Linked DNA regions of Homo sapiens: regions 1 and 3 are each linked to region 2. Evidence: fine-mapped expression QTL. A gene starts in region 2. Each other region holds a variant in brackets. All regions are shown on one strand. Distances are between the middles of the regions.

Region 1 (5,000 bases), 75 kb after region 2:
TAAAATAATTTTAGGATACTGACAATACACTTCCAGACTGTCTTGAACACCCCCAAAGAGCAATTACAACATCTTTATCATTATATTTATACAACTATATGCCTTTAAAACTTCTGTTCAGGAGCGTTTCATAAAAATTAAACTATGAAAGTTAGAAATAATTGCATTAGTCACTGATCACATCCAGAAAACACTTACTTGTCTTAAAAACTGCTTTCCAAAATATGAAGTAGCCATGCTGGTTAAATGCTTTCTGCTGCGCACCTTACACCTGATGTAACCATACAGGTTGGCACCTTGTAGCACCACACCCATAATAACCACCGCCTGGGACAAGGGAAAAAAATAATCAACGGTTACTGGCCTGAAATTGACCTTTCTCTGTGCCATAAATGAGACAAGGCAGACTGTCATGAGAAAGAGAAGGAAGAGGAAGCTCTGCAAAGCCATGATTGTGCCAGTTGAGATTTTCCAGAGACAGTTGCCAGAACAGACCCATCTGATAGACGCTCTGCACAAGGCACGAGTCATTCACCCAGCAAATATTTACTGGACACAACTGCTCTATGTGCCAGGCACCATGCTAGCTGCTGGGGATGCAGTGCAGGGGGAGCCTTCTTGCTCTCTGTTTCCCATTGGTCTGTGAGTAAAGTTAGGAAAAGTAAATGAGACTCAGGAAAGGTTCAAATGTTAATTATTCCTATAGGAATTACAAAAGAACAGTCAAGAGGTAGATCAAGTTCAATAAACTGAGAGCAGGTAGGGGTGAATCTCTGCTCTACGTGACAACTGGCTTCTGGTAGAGGGGATGCAATGCCCTAAGGCATAAATCAACCGATGCCTGCCTTCCCCGAGGAGAGAGACAGCTCCAAGGGGAACTGTACTTTTGCAGAGCTGTTTGTTCCTTTGAGTTTCATTTTCTCACCTATGGTGATCCCACTAGGATCAATGAGAAGTGAGAAAAAGAAACTCAAAACCCATTCTTTAAAAATTTCTAATTAATCTTAATTAGAAAAATTGAGACAATGTGAGGGATTCCCAAGGTTAAAGACTCTAATACAGTGATCAGCAAAGTTCTCCTGTAAAGGGTCAAATCATAAATATTTCAGACCATACGGTCTCTGTTGCAATTACTCAACTCTGCTGTTCTAATCCAAAGGCAGCCATAGACAATATATAAGTGGGCAAGGCTGTTTTTCAATAAAAACTTACAAAAACAGGTGTCGGGCTGGATTTGGTCTGCAGGCCATAGTTTGCCAACCCTTGTTCTGGAATAAACAGCTCATCGACCATTCTACTCTTTTATATCTGTGACAAGCAAAGCAGCTCAATGAAATGTCGTTTTCCAATCTAGATTTATTCTCCTTACCCTTAACAAGATGTATAGCTGATTTTAATGTTTAATTAATAGATTTAAATGTTTGATTAATGAACAGGTTCACATTCCTAGTAAAAGAAGAGGAGGTGGTACTTTCTGTTCTAAACTTATGTTTCATGGAATTAAACGTGTTAGTGTAATAAGAGGGTGCTAGTTTCCTAAATAAATATAAAACTGTGTATTTATTTGAATAAATTTCCTTTTAATTTCCCATGCTTCTCAAATGGGGCACTGCTGGGTATTGTATATATCAACATGCCAGGGTACACCTGAATTCAAAGACCAATCACGGGTCCTGCTAAGGCATCGATTTACTCAATGGCAACAAATGTTAAAATCTGTAAGTTAAACTTCTGGTTTAAGATGGTGCAGTGAAGTCAGACATGAAGATCTCCCTGCCCTTAAGGTACAAACAGCAAACAGCGTTTTTAAAAACACAAATAAACTAATACCAACAAACACAAAAAAGGGCTGGTGGCCAAAGAAAGAGCCAGGTTGGAGCAGCTCTACATAGCTCCAAACTCTGCAAAGAAGCTCTAAGGAAAATTTCACTAATAATTACCATCCCCAGGAACTTATAGAAAAGCAAAAGACCCGAGAAAAAAATGCAGAAATAGCCATGACAGCAGAAACTCCTCCCAACTAACAATGACCCAAACAGGCAGGAAAATCCCTGCAGCTGGCCATAGTGGTGCCACCGGGTGGGAAGAAGGCAGGAGACGAAGCGCAGAAGGATCAATAATCATGAGAGATGATCATCTTAAGAGAAGTGAGGAGGTGGGAGACTCATGGAGAGACTGGGTGAAGCCCATTCCCGTCCTGTGGTCTTAACCCATTTATTTTTATTATTTTTATTTATTTATTTTTATTTATTTATTTTTTGAGACGGAGTCTCGCTCTGTCACTCAGGCTGGAGTGCGGTGGCACGATCTCAGCTCACTGCAAACTCCGCCTCCTGGGTTCACTCCATTCTCCTGCCTCAGCCTCCCGAGTAACTGGGACTACAGGTGCCTGCCACCACACCCGGCTAATTTTTTTATTTTTAGTAGAGACAGGGTTTCACCGTGTTAGCCAGGATGGTCTCGATCTCCTGACCTCGTGATCCGCCCGCCTTGGCCCTCCCAAAGTGCTGGGATTACAGGC[A/T]TGAGCCACCATGCCAAGGTCTTAACCCATTTATGCTGTAGGCTGCAATTTTGTGAATTTTTGCATGAGTGAAAAATCAGACCTTGGTGATTACCTTGAGCAGTAGGATATAAATAACTCCTACATGCTTAGCGTTCCAATAATGGAACACTAGGCATAAGTAGGTTAACACAGGATCAAACTGGCTTTCACATAACCTCTCCCTGTTTTGTTTTAAGGAAGTAGAAACACTGCTAGAAAAAGACTGGGCTCACTCTCTTGGATGGATGCTAAAGCTCTAAGGTCTTACAAACAATCCAAAGCAGAAGGGAAGAACCAGAAGAGAGTGCACAGCCAACCAGCAGACAAGAGCCCCACTAAGGAAGAGAACGCAAAACCAGGCAGCCCAGCCAAGACAGCAAGAGCCTGGTAAGTTCTCCACATCGCACATCACACCTGTGCCTTCAGGCTACCAAACCCAGCACTGCAACTCCAGCTCAGAGCAGCAGCCACGTGCCTCAGACATCAGGAGAAGGTGGTCAAGGGGGATTCACCCGCACTAAACCAGCAGAAAGAGAAGGGCTGGACAGGACTGTCACTGTAAGGATAAGCAAAATGGATAAGGAAAAAGGGAAGTGCATTTATGCAAAACTATAGCGAAAAAAGAAAAAAGAAGCATAGTATACAGAAGATAGGTGAAGAATCTACTCGAAAAGAAAAAAAACCCACCAAAATAAAAGCATTCCTGGGACTATTTCACCCTACAGAAAAACCTAAAGAAAAGAACTCAAAAAGCATGAGGGTGAGATAACAGGAGATGAAAATGGAGCTGACAAAGCTAAGGAAATACAGAGAGAAGCCTTAGCTGAGCACTTAAAATAGTTACTGTTCTCTCCTCTGCACTCTCTACCCCATTACTTTGTATCATTAACTAACATCCCCTACTGTATTTTTTACTGTTTATCTACCTTCCACTAGAACATAAGCTCTACTGGAGCAGTCAACTTGTTTACTGTCCCCTAACTTGTCCCCCTGTGTCCCCAGACAGCTCTGACATAAGAGTGAACTCTTAAAATTGCTGAATAAATAAGGAAAAGATGAATAATTAAAGCAACAAGAAAATAGTAGATGAAAACAAATAAAAATGATCCAACATAAACGTAACTGGTACTTCAAAATAAAAGGTCAAACCATAGAACATAAATAAATGCAAAGATTTAACAGAAAAAATTTTCCTGATTCCAAGCAAAACTTTAGTCTGCCTGTCAGAAAGGCACAGACTCCAGAAAACTTGATATGGAAAGATAAATACAAATACATCTGGGTTACATGAACTAAAAAAAAAAACACCTTATGAGGAGAGATTACAAAGGTTAAGTAAGCCTGGCCTCAGACTTCTCCAAGATATTCAGTGAAAGAAAATGATGGAATAGCATCCTCCAAAAAGAAACAAACTGTGACCCAAGAATATTAATCCAGCCAGGTCATCATTTAAGAATAGTCAATAGGCTCATATGTTTAAACATGAGTCAAAAGAAAATGTAGCCAACCAATAAGTAAAAGGAGAAGCTGCAATAAGACTGGTGATAGGCAATGAATTGACTTTTTTAAAAAACAGATCAAAGACTGAACAACCAGTAAGAAATATGTTTTCAAAAGATAACTATTATAAAACTTGGTAACACAAAAATAACATTGGAACAAACAAGAGAGAAAGGAGGAAACTCATAGGAAGGAATATGAGTGTTTATTTTCTTCCCTTTCTAAACAGAGTCTATTAAGTCAATAAACAGGTTTAAGTACATTAATTAATGTTACAAAGAAAACCACTAGAAGGACTAAAATAAGACTATAATAAGCAAAACTCTAGAGGTAGGAGGAGGGAGAAGTTAAAGAAACCATATTAGCGTAAAGTTTCCCATTTTCCAGAGCAGGAACTCCATAAATACTGAATACATTTCCTAATTCATGAAAGAGGGTAATGATATAACATATAAAGTAATTAAAGGTAACTACCAGAAGAACTGAAAAAAGACAATAAGCTTCCAATAAGCTTCCAAATCCAAAGAAGGAAAGTATGAATGTATGAGCACACACAAAGAAAAAAAGAATCTATATCACAAAATAGGACTAAGAAAATACTACAAATTAGGAGGAAAAACATAATTAAGGCCAAAATATATCTGATATCAATAAATATTGTGTGAAAATTCACACAATATTTATTCATATCAGATATAAGATAGAATAAGAAAAAACAATATGAGATATAAAAAAGAGTAAGACTCACAAATTGGGTCAAGTGACAAACTATATTTTCCAAAGACAGCAGCAACAATATCTCCTCTTCCACAAAGTCTTCTAGCACCTTCTTATTCCTTATCAAGAGTAGAGCCTAATTCCCATTTCCTTGAATGTGAGTGGGCAGCAGAAGCAATGCTATGACATCTTAGGCTAGATTGTAAAAGCTTGTGAGCTAGAACACCCCACAAGTGAAGTA
Region 2 (5,410 bases):
ATACCAGCGGTTGCTCTTTCACTCACTCCAGCCTGGCATCCACACTCGCAGCTCTGCTGACAGCCAGCACAGAAAGGAACCAGCAGGGATACGGGAACAGAGGCACAGACATCAAGCAGGGTTCAAGAAAGTGCAAGTGGGTGCAACACACACACACACCAACACACAGACACACACACCAACAGACACACCAACACACAGACACACGCAATACAGACACACACAACACAGACACACACCAACACACAGACACACATAACACAGACACACACCAACACAGACACACACCAATACAGACACACACAACACAGACACACACCAACACACAGACACACCAACACACAGATACAAACACAGACACACCAACACACACACACCAACACACAGACACACAACACACATACCAACACAGACACACCAACAGACACACACCAACACACAGACACACACAACAGACACACACCAACACACACAACACACACACCAACACAAACACACACCAACACCAGACACACCAACACACAGACACACACAACACAGACATGCACAACACAGACACATACCAACACCAGACACACCAACACAGACACACATAACACACACACCAACACACACACACAACACACACCAACACAGACATACACCAGTACCAGACACACCAACACACAGACACACATAACGGAGATACACATCAACACCAGACATACAAACACAGACACACACAACACAGACCCACACCAATACCAGACACACCAACACAAACACACACAACAAAGACACTTAGGTACAAACACACACACCAACACACAGACACACATACACCAGCACAGAGATACACACCAAGACATTCATACAACACAGACACACACGCACAAAGATACACACAACACACAAAACACACAAACACACAGTCATATCACAAACACGGAGACACATATGCCTACACATGCACAGACACGCATGCTAACGCCTTCCAATATGGCAGCCAAGGGGCTCTTGCTGTGGTCAGGGAAGAGGGGGAGGGAGCCTGGCCATCCACCGTGGGGAGGACATGCAGCGCGCATCGTGAGGACTCCAGACCCCTGAGGGTGGTAGCAGCAGGAGGGCAACAGAGGATCCTAGAGTTGCTGCACCTGGGGGCAGATCCAGTTGTTACAGGGCCTGAGCATTCTACAGCTGGTGGGGAAACCCTCTTTGTGCCCTGCACAAGTGGTAAGCACTTAGAAGACATCCCTGAAGGAGGGAGAGAAAGGGAGGGAGAGGGAGGGAAAGGGAGGGGGAGGGAGGGCAGAGCCTACCAGGAAGCCTGGAGGAAGCCTGCGACCTGGGACCCAGGTCAGCTCCCTGACCCAGGCCAGTGGGTGAACTGACAAGTGACAGAGTCTGGATTTGAACCCAGGGACTCGGCTGCCCATGTTCTTAACCTGCGTCACCTATCTGCCTCTCTCATACTGACTCAATGTAGCTCAAACAAGTGTAAAGCAAGAGCTTCCAGCACAAACAGTGGGCTTCGGGCTCAGGCCTCCAGAAACACTGCCTGGGGTGGGAGCCTGGGCGCTGGGCCAGCTTCCACCCAGATGGGGAGAAGGGAAGGGCTGCCTCATCTGCAGAAACGAGTCTCTTCTGTTCTCTTCTCCCCACCCCTATCTACACCAAGGTGCATTCATGGATCGCAAGGTTTCTTACTAATTTTTTGTTTCATTCACTGGTGTCTTTTATTCCTTGTTCTAAATTACTTTTTTTAATTTTTACTTTTATAGAGACAGTCTCACTGACACCCAGGCTGGAGTGCAGTGGCACGATCATGGCTCACTGCAGCCTCAAACTCCTGGGCTCACACAGACACACACTCAATACAGACACACACCTGGACTCAAGGGGCCCTCCTGCCTCAGCCTCCAGAGTAGCTGGGACTACAGGTGCACACCAATGCCCAGCTAATTTATTTTTATTTTTATTTTTGTAGAAACGGGGTCTTGCTATGTTGCCTAGGCTGGTCTTGAGTTCTCGGCCTCAAACAATCCTCCTGCCTCAGCCTCCTTAAGTGGTGGGATTACAAGCATGATTAATTATTTTTAAATAAGTGACTTGATTATTATTGTTTTGTAAAAATCCTCTTAGTCACCTTTGTCCCTATAGGTTTCTATAGGTGCTTAATAATTTTTTAAAGGTATTTACCAGTTCTGGCTAAACATTCCTTTGGTCCTGAGCTCTGTGGAGAGGTAATGCATCTGTGGGAACATCATCACCCTCATCCCCAACCCATCACCCCCAGGGGATGGGGGGGAACGGGGGTATATTTTGTGTGTGTGTGTTTTGCTTAAGTAGAGTGGTCAGCCCTGAGTGTACAATAGAATCACCTGGCTGTCATTATAGACATACCTGAGCTCAAGCCCTCTGCAGACAAAGTAAATCAGAATCCTAGGAATGGGACGAGCTTGTTGGCAAGGGTTGGGCATCAGTACGTTTTACAAAGTCCTGAGGGGATTGGGTGACCAGGATTGGGATCCACTTAAGGGAAGTAATGCTGGGGACTCTGGGGACCCTTTAATGGCAGGATTATTCTTTGATGAAGGACCTGACCTTCTCCTGGAAGTTGAGTGTGAGCCTTTTCACTTTCACCCTCGACTTCCCTCTCTGGGGACACCCAGTGTTCTGGCCCAGACTGTTACCTGAGAAGTTTCTGTGATTCCCCATCCTTCCTGCACTATCTTGGCTGTTCCCCTGCCCGGCGTTTATATTTTGTCTCCAGCTGTCCCCTGTGCTCTCAATCCCACTTCTCTTTGGCTCTCTCTTTGCTGCAGCTAACCATCCTCTTGCCCCTGCCCCAAAGTGACCCATGAGCCAGAAGTCAGGAGTGAAGGGGGGCACTGTGACATCAGAAGTTGCCATGCACCCCCTCCTGAATCTTCTGCCCTGCTCTCTTCCTCCTCTGCAGGCTCAGCGGTCACCAGCAATGCAGTCCTCAAACACGGACATTAGAGTGATTATTCCCACCCCCAAGAGTGAACACCTACTATGTGCTGGACCCTAGACCAAACACATACACACATAAAGATACACAACACACACACATGCACACACACACACCCCAACATGCATGACCTCATTTGAGATCTCTGATCATTTCAACAAGCAGTTACTCTGGCCCAGACGCAGCCAACTACAGAGATAGACAAGACCTGTGGTCTCTTTCCTTAGTGCCAGAATCTCCTAGAAGGTCTATTAAGACAGATTGCTGGGTCCCACTCCCAGGGTCTCTGATTCAGTATATGTGGGGTGGGGCCCAAGAACTTGCCTTTCTAACAAGCTCTCAGCCTTCTTCTGAAATAAAATCCTCTTTAGATAAGCTGGAGAGAGAATGGCTGTCACTAACAGGCTGTTGAGAATTAGCCTCCTTCTCCCCAACTCCATTGACCGGCCAGTGCTTGGCAATGGAGAGAGCGAGCAGCTTCTAACCTCCCCTGTGGCCCCAACCGTGAAAAAGTCCCCAAGATGCCAGGAGGACACAGTGCAGAGCAGGCTGTAAAGTCTGGCAGTTTAATTGCAGTCATCAACTCGGGGCAGCACCAGGAGACAGGCTGGACTTGCTCTCCCTGTGTTATCATCATGCCCTGTTGACAATCCTTTGAAATGTCTCTCCCTGTGTCTGTTCCTTCTGCTCCTCTCCACTCCCCCACCACCTCTCCAATCCCAGAGTTCAACCTGTCCAGCCAGGAATGTAAAGTCCCCTCACTTCTCTGCAACCACAGCAAGCACTTGAGCTTCCTCCAAATCATACTGACTCAATCATATATTTCCCACGATCTCCTTTTCTTCATAGTTCTCTATAATCTTCAGAGAGAGGTGCATTCTAGAAAAAGGCCAGGCAGAAAACACCTGTGTTTCAGCCTCAGTTTTATCATTTAGTTGTAAGAAAACATACATCAAGTGGATCCCCAACAAAAATCTACCTCTCCTCACTGCCCACGAGTCAGTACCTAGAGCCTCAGGCAGAGCCCTCATTGCTGCGGTTCTCAAAAAGCCTTTCTCTATCCTCCCCTCTCTCCAGGCTCTAGTTCCTCTTCAACTCCAGCCCTAAACTCCCTGAATTCATTCTCGCTCTGGAGCTCCCGTGTCAGCGGAGCCATGCCTTCAACCTTTCCATGGGCCCCTATTTTGTGGCTCAGTGTCCCTGAGCCCTGAGTATCTCCATTCAGTTCTTCAAACAAGTTCTAGACAAGGGAAGGATCTGAGCAAAGTCACGGAGGTGCGGGACAGCCTGGGCGTCTGGAAATGCTACGGGAAATGCACAGGTGAGGGGGATGGGGGGGAGTTGGGGTGGGCCAGTCTGACAAGGTTCTGCTCTCTCTCCCAGCAAGTCTGGGGAAGACAGTGGACATCTTTGAGTGCACAGGCCAGGTGTGAAGTGTAGCGGATGAGCAGGGGACCTCCCCTGTGGTTCCACAAGAACCTCCAAAGACTCACCCCAGAAGTCTTCTGCAGCTTGAAGTGACTCTCTGAGCTGCTTATACCTAGCGCTGATGTGCAATGGGCCAGGGCCCGGCAGGGAGCCAGACCCTCGGACTCGAGAAAGCCATTTGAGAGTGACATCAGCCCACCACCTGCTAGTGCGCACTCACAGTGTTTCCGGAAGCCATGATGCTAATCATGTCTGTTTCTGTGTTGTCCATGGCAAGACTCCAAGCCCAGAAAAGAAAATCTGTAGCCCAAGTTATTTTCCTCCCACAGGGCTTGCCTGGCCTTTGATTGTTGGCTTTGGGGAGGTGCATTTCTCCCTCCTCTGTGGGCAGCAAATTCCCCGTGAGTCAACAGATCCTGTATCTGGGCTCACCATGGGCTTCTACTGGCACTGAGAAGGGGCAAGCTGAGCAAACATGCAATGTGACCCCAGTGCTGACCAACCCAGAGATGCCCCATGGGACTCAGGGACTTGACCTCAGTGCTTCTGGGGTCCCTCAGTGTATCTTGCTGGCCTCAGCACTGGGCTGCTTGGTAACCTCCCCACAGGCAGGTACTAAGTGCAGCCAGCCCCTTCATTCAAGGCAGAATGAATTAAAAAGCTGGGGTTCCAGAGTTGGCTCCAGGTCACCCATGCACACACCCCATGCCAGGTACTGCTCTCAACTCTTCACACACTAGCTTATTCTGGGCTCAAAACTCCCAGGAATACCTTCGAGGCAGTTTCCACTACTCTAATCCCCATTTTACAAAGTGATGAAACTGAGGCACACAGTTCAGTAAGTTGCCCACGGATACACAATTCATAAGTAGAAAAATCAAAGTGCAAATTCCAGAACGTACACCACTAAGAAGGGGCCACGAGGCAGCTCTCCCCACCTGAGAATCCCCCTGAAATCCATGGTGAGCCTGCCCAGAGCCCCCACCCCTACCCAACTTACATTGGCTG
Region 3 (5,410 bases), 100 kb after region 2:
TGCCAGCCAGGCATGGTGCTCGACCCTGGAGGTGCAGTGGTGACTAAGGCACACTTCTGTGTCTTGTGGGGTTCTGAGTCATGAAGCACCTCATATGTGTGTAATGTGCTAAATACTACAAGGACAGGCCCAGTGTGACGTGGGAGCACAAAGAGAAGTATCTACCTCAAACTGAGGAGACCAAGGATTACTTCTCAGGGAATGCGTCTTGAAGCTGAGAACCAGAGGTTGAGTAAGAAATAAGCCATTCTGCCTGTTCCCTGCTGAGCTCTTGTTTCTGTTCCTTCCTCCTCCACCTACTCTAGTTTGGTGGTCCTTAATCTCCTCCTCATCTCACTTCCCTGCATTTGCTACACTCCACACTGTCTGTACCTCCAACCCAGATTGCTTTTCTGAGCCTAGTTCCTCTGAAAATCTATTGGGCTGCCCCTGCAGGCAGCTCACATTTTGTGTGTATTCACCCCAATTCACTTTCTTTCCCAAATCTTTTTCCTTAATACCTTAATTTATGTTCCAAAGTCAGGCACCTATAAGCCATCCTAGGCACTCTTTTTCTGTTATCTCCTTCATCTGATTACTCAACAGATTGTGTCTTTTCAACCCCCTGATTTACCCTGGAATCTGTGCCCTCTCACCTCAGTGCTTTAGCTTCAGCCCATCATCGGTTTTGCGTGGGTTATTACAGCACATCCCAGCTGACTTCTCTGCCTTCTTCCTAACCCTCCTTCCATCTGTCTTCCACTCAACTGGCAGATAGGTCTTCCGTAAGTGATCACTGTTTCACCAAACATATTTAAGACAAAACACATATCTTTGCTGTGATGAAAAGTACTATAATAAACATGAGTACAGGTATCTTTTTGATTAATGTTGATTTCTTTCCTTTTGTGTAGATACTCAGTAGTGGGATTGCTGGATCAAATGGTAGTTCTATTTTTAGTTCTTTGGGAGATCGCCATACTATTTTCCATAGAGGCTATACTAATTTACATGCCCCGTCAACAGTGTGTAAGAGTTCCCTTTCCTCTGCATCCTCATCAACATCTTCATTTTTTATGATAACAATAGCTCTTCTGACTGGGGTAAAATGATATCTCAGTATGGTTTTAATTTGCATTCCTCTGATGATTAGTGATGTTGAGCATTTTTTCATATACCTTTTGGCTATTCGTATGTCTTCTTTTTTTCTTTTTCTTTTTCTTTTTTTTTTTTTTTTTTTTTTTTTGAGACAGGTCTTGCTCTGTTACTTAGGCTGGAATGCAGTGGCAGGACTATGGCTCACTGCACCCTTAACCTCCAGAACTCGTGATCCTCCCACCTCAGCCTCCCAAGTAGCTGGAATTACAGGTGCCAGTCGCTGGGCCTAGGTAATTTTTTTTTACTTTGTGTGGCCGGTTTCGAACTCCTGGGCTCAAGCGTTTCTCCTGCCTCGGCCTCCTAAAGTGCTGGGATTACAAGTGCGAGCCAACACACCCAGCTAATTTTGTTTTTAAATTTTTTGTAGACACAGTGTCTCACTATGTTGCCCAGGCTGGTCTCAAACTCCTGGCCTCAAGTGATCTTTCTGTCTTGGCCTCCCAAAGTGCTGGGATTACAGGCATGAGCCACCATGTATGTCTTCTTTCAAAAAATGTGATGTCATTTGCCCACATTTCAATGGCATTATTTGTTTGTTTGTTTGTTTTTACTATTGAGTTGTTTGAATTCCTTGTACATTCTGGGTATTAATGCTCTTGTCACACGAACAGTTTTAGGCACCATTTTCAATACTATATTACAGAGGTGAACAAAACAGAAAAATTCTTGCTATCGTGGAGCTTGCATGCTAGCCATTATACCTGGCAGGTAGCTAATGCTTAATAATGGATGGATGGACAGGTGGATGGATGATAAGAGAAAGAAATGACCTCCTAGGTGGGAGAAATACAGAAGTAAAGATACCAAAGAAGGAATACATGGCATCTGCTGTCAAGGCGATGAGAAGGCCATTCGGACAGGAGTGGAGAATGAGCGAAGAGACAAAATGAACATCAAGATAGAGAGACACGCTGTAGACCTTGACAGACAGACAGACTTTGGATAGGTAGAGAATGAAGCAAAGACCATGTCAGGCAAG[A/G]TGAACATGGTGAGCAAAAATGCAAAGATGGGAGTGCAAAATATATGTGTAAGGATAAAAACAGGCAACCTGGCCAGCTGTAGAGGGAAGGATGTATATAGGAGAATTGTGAGGAAGTAAAACTGGGAAGAGGTTAAGGAAAATGTACAGACCAGACTACACTGTGAAGGCTGTTCTATAGGAACTGGACCTTGGTCAGTGTTGTTCTGGAGCTCCTGACTAGTATATAATAAGGCAAGAGAGAGAAAGAAAAGGCACATACACTGGAAAGAAATGAAATTCTTTTCACAATGTGATTGTTTATGTGGAAAATTCAAAGGAATCTACAGAAAAGCTACTAGGAGTAATAAGTAAATCTAGCAAGGGTATAGAATACAAGGTCAGTATTCCAAAATCAGCTGTGGAATTCCACTTCCAGCATGACAACATGGGCTGCTCCCCAGTGAAACTGGGCTCGGCAGAGGACTCTTCGATAAAACACAAAAGCCACAAACCATGCAAGAAAAGTAGATAAACTGTACTTCATCAAAATTAAAAACTTCTGCTCTTCAGAAGACACTTAAAATGAAAATACAAGCCACAGAGTAGGAGATAACATTTGTAAAATACAGACATGATGAAGAACTCATGTACAGAATATAGAAAGAAGTCTTAAACTCATTAAGAAAACAACCTTAAAAATAGACAAAAGGGGCCGGGCACAGTGGCTCACGCCTGTAATCCTAGCCCTTTAGGAGGCCAAAGCAGGAGGACTGCTTGAGCCCAGGAGTTTGAGACCAGTCTGGGCAATATAGTGAGACCTCATCTTTACAAAATTTTTTTAAAAAATTAGGTATGGCAGCATGTGCCTGTAGTCCCAACTACTTGGGAGGCTGAGGAGGGAGGATCACTTGAGCCCAGGAAGCAGATGTTGCAGTCAGCTAAGATCATGCCACTGCACTCAAGTCTGGGTGACACAGCAAGACCCTGTCAAAAAAAAAAAAAAGTGCGTAAAAGATTTAAATAGGCCCTACTCCAAAGAAGAAATACAGACGTTAAATAAGCAAAAGATTTTCAACGTCAGTAATCATAGGGGAAATGCAAATTAAAAACACAATGAGATACCACTACACGCCTATTAGCATAATTAACATTTATTAAAAACAACAATACAGTGCTGACAAGGGTGTAGAATACCTGAAGCTCTCGTTTATTGCTAGTGTGAATGCAGAATGGTACAATCAATTCCAAGAACAGTTTGGCAGATTTCAATAAATTTAAACAAAATTTACCATACAATCCCATTCCTGTGTATGTATGGACACATGTCCATACAAAGATCTGTACATGAATATTAGCTTAAATATCACTAAAGACAACCTAAACATCCCTCAGCTGATGAATAGATAAACAAATTACGGCTGAAATACTACTCAGAAATTAAAAGGAACAAACCACTGGTACGTGCAGTGACACGGGTGTGTTTCAAAAGCACTATGTTAAGTGAAAGAAGACAGAGACAAAAGACAGCATGTCGTATGATTCCATTTATATGACATTTTGGAAAGCCAAAACTAGGCACAGAAGTAAGATCAGTGGTTACTGGGAAACGGCGGTGGGGGGAGGGGTGCGGGGGACAGGAGGGAATTGGCTACAGAGGGGCATAAGAAACTTTTTGAAAAGATAAATTTATATGTTCCATATCTTGATTGTGGTGGTGGTTACACTATGTTTACCTTTTTTTTTTTTTTTAACTCAGAACTAACTGTACACTTGCAATGGGTAAATTTGTGTATTGAAAATTATAGTCTGTTTTAGACTAGATTTTCAGAGCACTTGGTTTTTCCTTGGGGAATAGAATGTTGTAGAACATAAGATTTTGGGGTCCGATTGCCTGGAATCAAAGCCTAGCTCCTCCGCCTGCTTCACCATGCAACCCTGACCATATTACTAAACTTCTCTGAGGCTCTGTTTCCTCGCCTATAAAATGAGGTTCGTGCCTTCCACCTCATAGAGTTATGTGAGAAAACGACTGTTCTTATAAAGCCGTCAGTAAATGATACTGCTGTCATCATTGTTACTACTTTTTTCAGAATTGTGTCCTCAGCATCTCTGGATGTTACACTCTGTGCTAAATGCTGGAATATGACCAGCATGACCTGATCCCTGCCTTCATTCCCGTCCGGTGGGGAAGGTAGAACTTTAGCCAGTGAACAGTTGAGCTCTAAAAGATCATTCTAGGTGGGCATCAATGGTGCCAAGGAAAGAGACAGAATGATAATACAGAACAATTGGGAGAGAGCACTCCAGAGCGGGAAGGCACTGGGAGGGAGTGGATTGGAGTTGAGAACTGAAGGAGAGTGATGCAGAGATCTGGGGGAACGTACGGTGGCCAGAGTGGGCTTCTACCTGACACTATAAATAGAAAGGCCAGTGTGGTGAGAACATAATGAACAAGGGGCAGGGTGGCACAAGATGAAGACAGAAGGGCTGGAACTCCATGTGCAGTGGGAGAAGCCAGAAATAAGTTGTACAAATGGGGCTGGTGTGATCAGATTTAGGTTAAAAGAACCCCTCAGCTGCCTGGGTAAAATAGACCATAGAATCCCAGGAGAGAGACTTGGGGCAGCTCCTGGCATGACTTGATGATAGCTTGGACCAGGGTGGTCACAGCAGAAGTGAAGTTCTTCTGTTACTCAGCTCAAAATTCAGGCTGGCTACCATTGCCTACTCTTCTCTGAAACGTTCCCGTCTCTATTGCCTATGTGTATCTTCACCTTTGTTACAGTGCTATAGCTCTGTCTACCTGTAATTCATTATAAGGGAGAGGAGCAGAGGTGACATTAGAATGTAATCCCAGAGAAGGTGCAGCTCCCCTGTTCAGTCAAATCCTCACAGCCAGCACCAACAGAAATACATTTCTGTTTAGCCAGGCTGCCGATGCTTGTAGCATGAAGAATAATAGAGTAAACCCCACAGGGAAACAGAACCCCATAGAATTCTCCACCTCTCCTCTACTGAGAGTCTCCTTAAAGGCGGAATGGTTTGAATGCCCAGCCATCTAAATATAGGCTTTTCTTTTGTTCCCTCTTAATTTAACTGAGTGATTCTCAAACTCTAGTGAACACAGTCATTATTTTCCAGAATTGTACATACATAACCTTCCATGTACTTTATGGATGAGTTCAGGGGATTTTAAAGGATAATTTTGAATGTAATATAGTTTCACCTTAGGGCTGACCTAAATAAACTGAATAAACTGCAGCTCCACTGTTTCAAGAAATTGAAAATGCATCTGGTCCTAATACAGCTTTG

Evidence for each region. PIP is the estimated chance that this variant, and not a neighbour inherited with it, causes the effect.
Region 1: its variant is the best candidate, but not a certain one, in a credible set for the expression of CDRT4 in sun-exposed skin (GTEx, PIP 0.71).
Region 3: its variant is the best candidate, but not a certain one, in a credible set for the expression of CDRT4 in whole blood (TOPMed, PIP 0.75).

Annotation. Positions count from the first base shown.
Region 1 is chr17:15,540,235-15,545,234 of GRCh38, forward strand. The region is part of intron 4 of TVP23C-CDRT4 (TVP23C-CDRT4 readthrough); the gene reads right to left. TVP23C (trans-golgi network vesicle protein 23 homolog C) reads right to left here. Exons shown (of 6, transcript NM_001135036.2): 6 at 1-327. The coding sequence ends at 178. Among named protein-coding and RNA genes, the nearest start is that of TVP23C, 21 kb to the right of the region's middle. RefSeq lists an enhancer at 371-996. The variant A/T (reference allele first, on the strand shown) is at 2,522.
Region 2 is chr17:15,464,788-15,470,197 of GRCh38, forward strand. CDRT4 (CMT1A duplicated region transcript 4) reads right to left here and starts at 2,834. Exons shown (of 4, transcript NM_001204477.2): 1 at 2,673-2,834. All of the region lies in intron 4 of TVP23C-CDRT4 (TVP23C-CDRT4 readthrough), which reads right to left.
Region 3 is chr17:15,568,256-15,573,665 of GRCh38, forward strand. It overlaps a transcript of FBXW10B not described here. Among named protein-coding and RNA genes, the nearest start is that of TVP23C-CDRT4, 7.5 kb to the left of the region's middle. The variant A/G (reference allele first, on the strand shown) is at 2,117.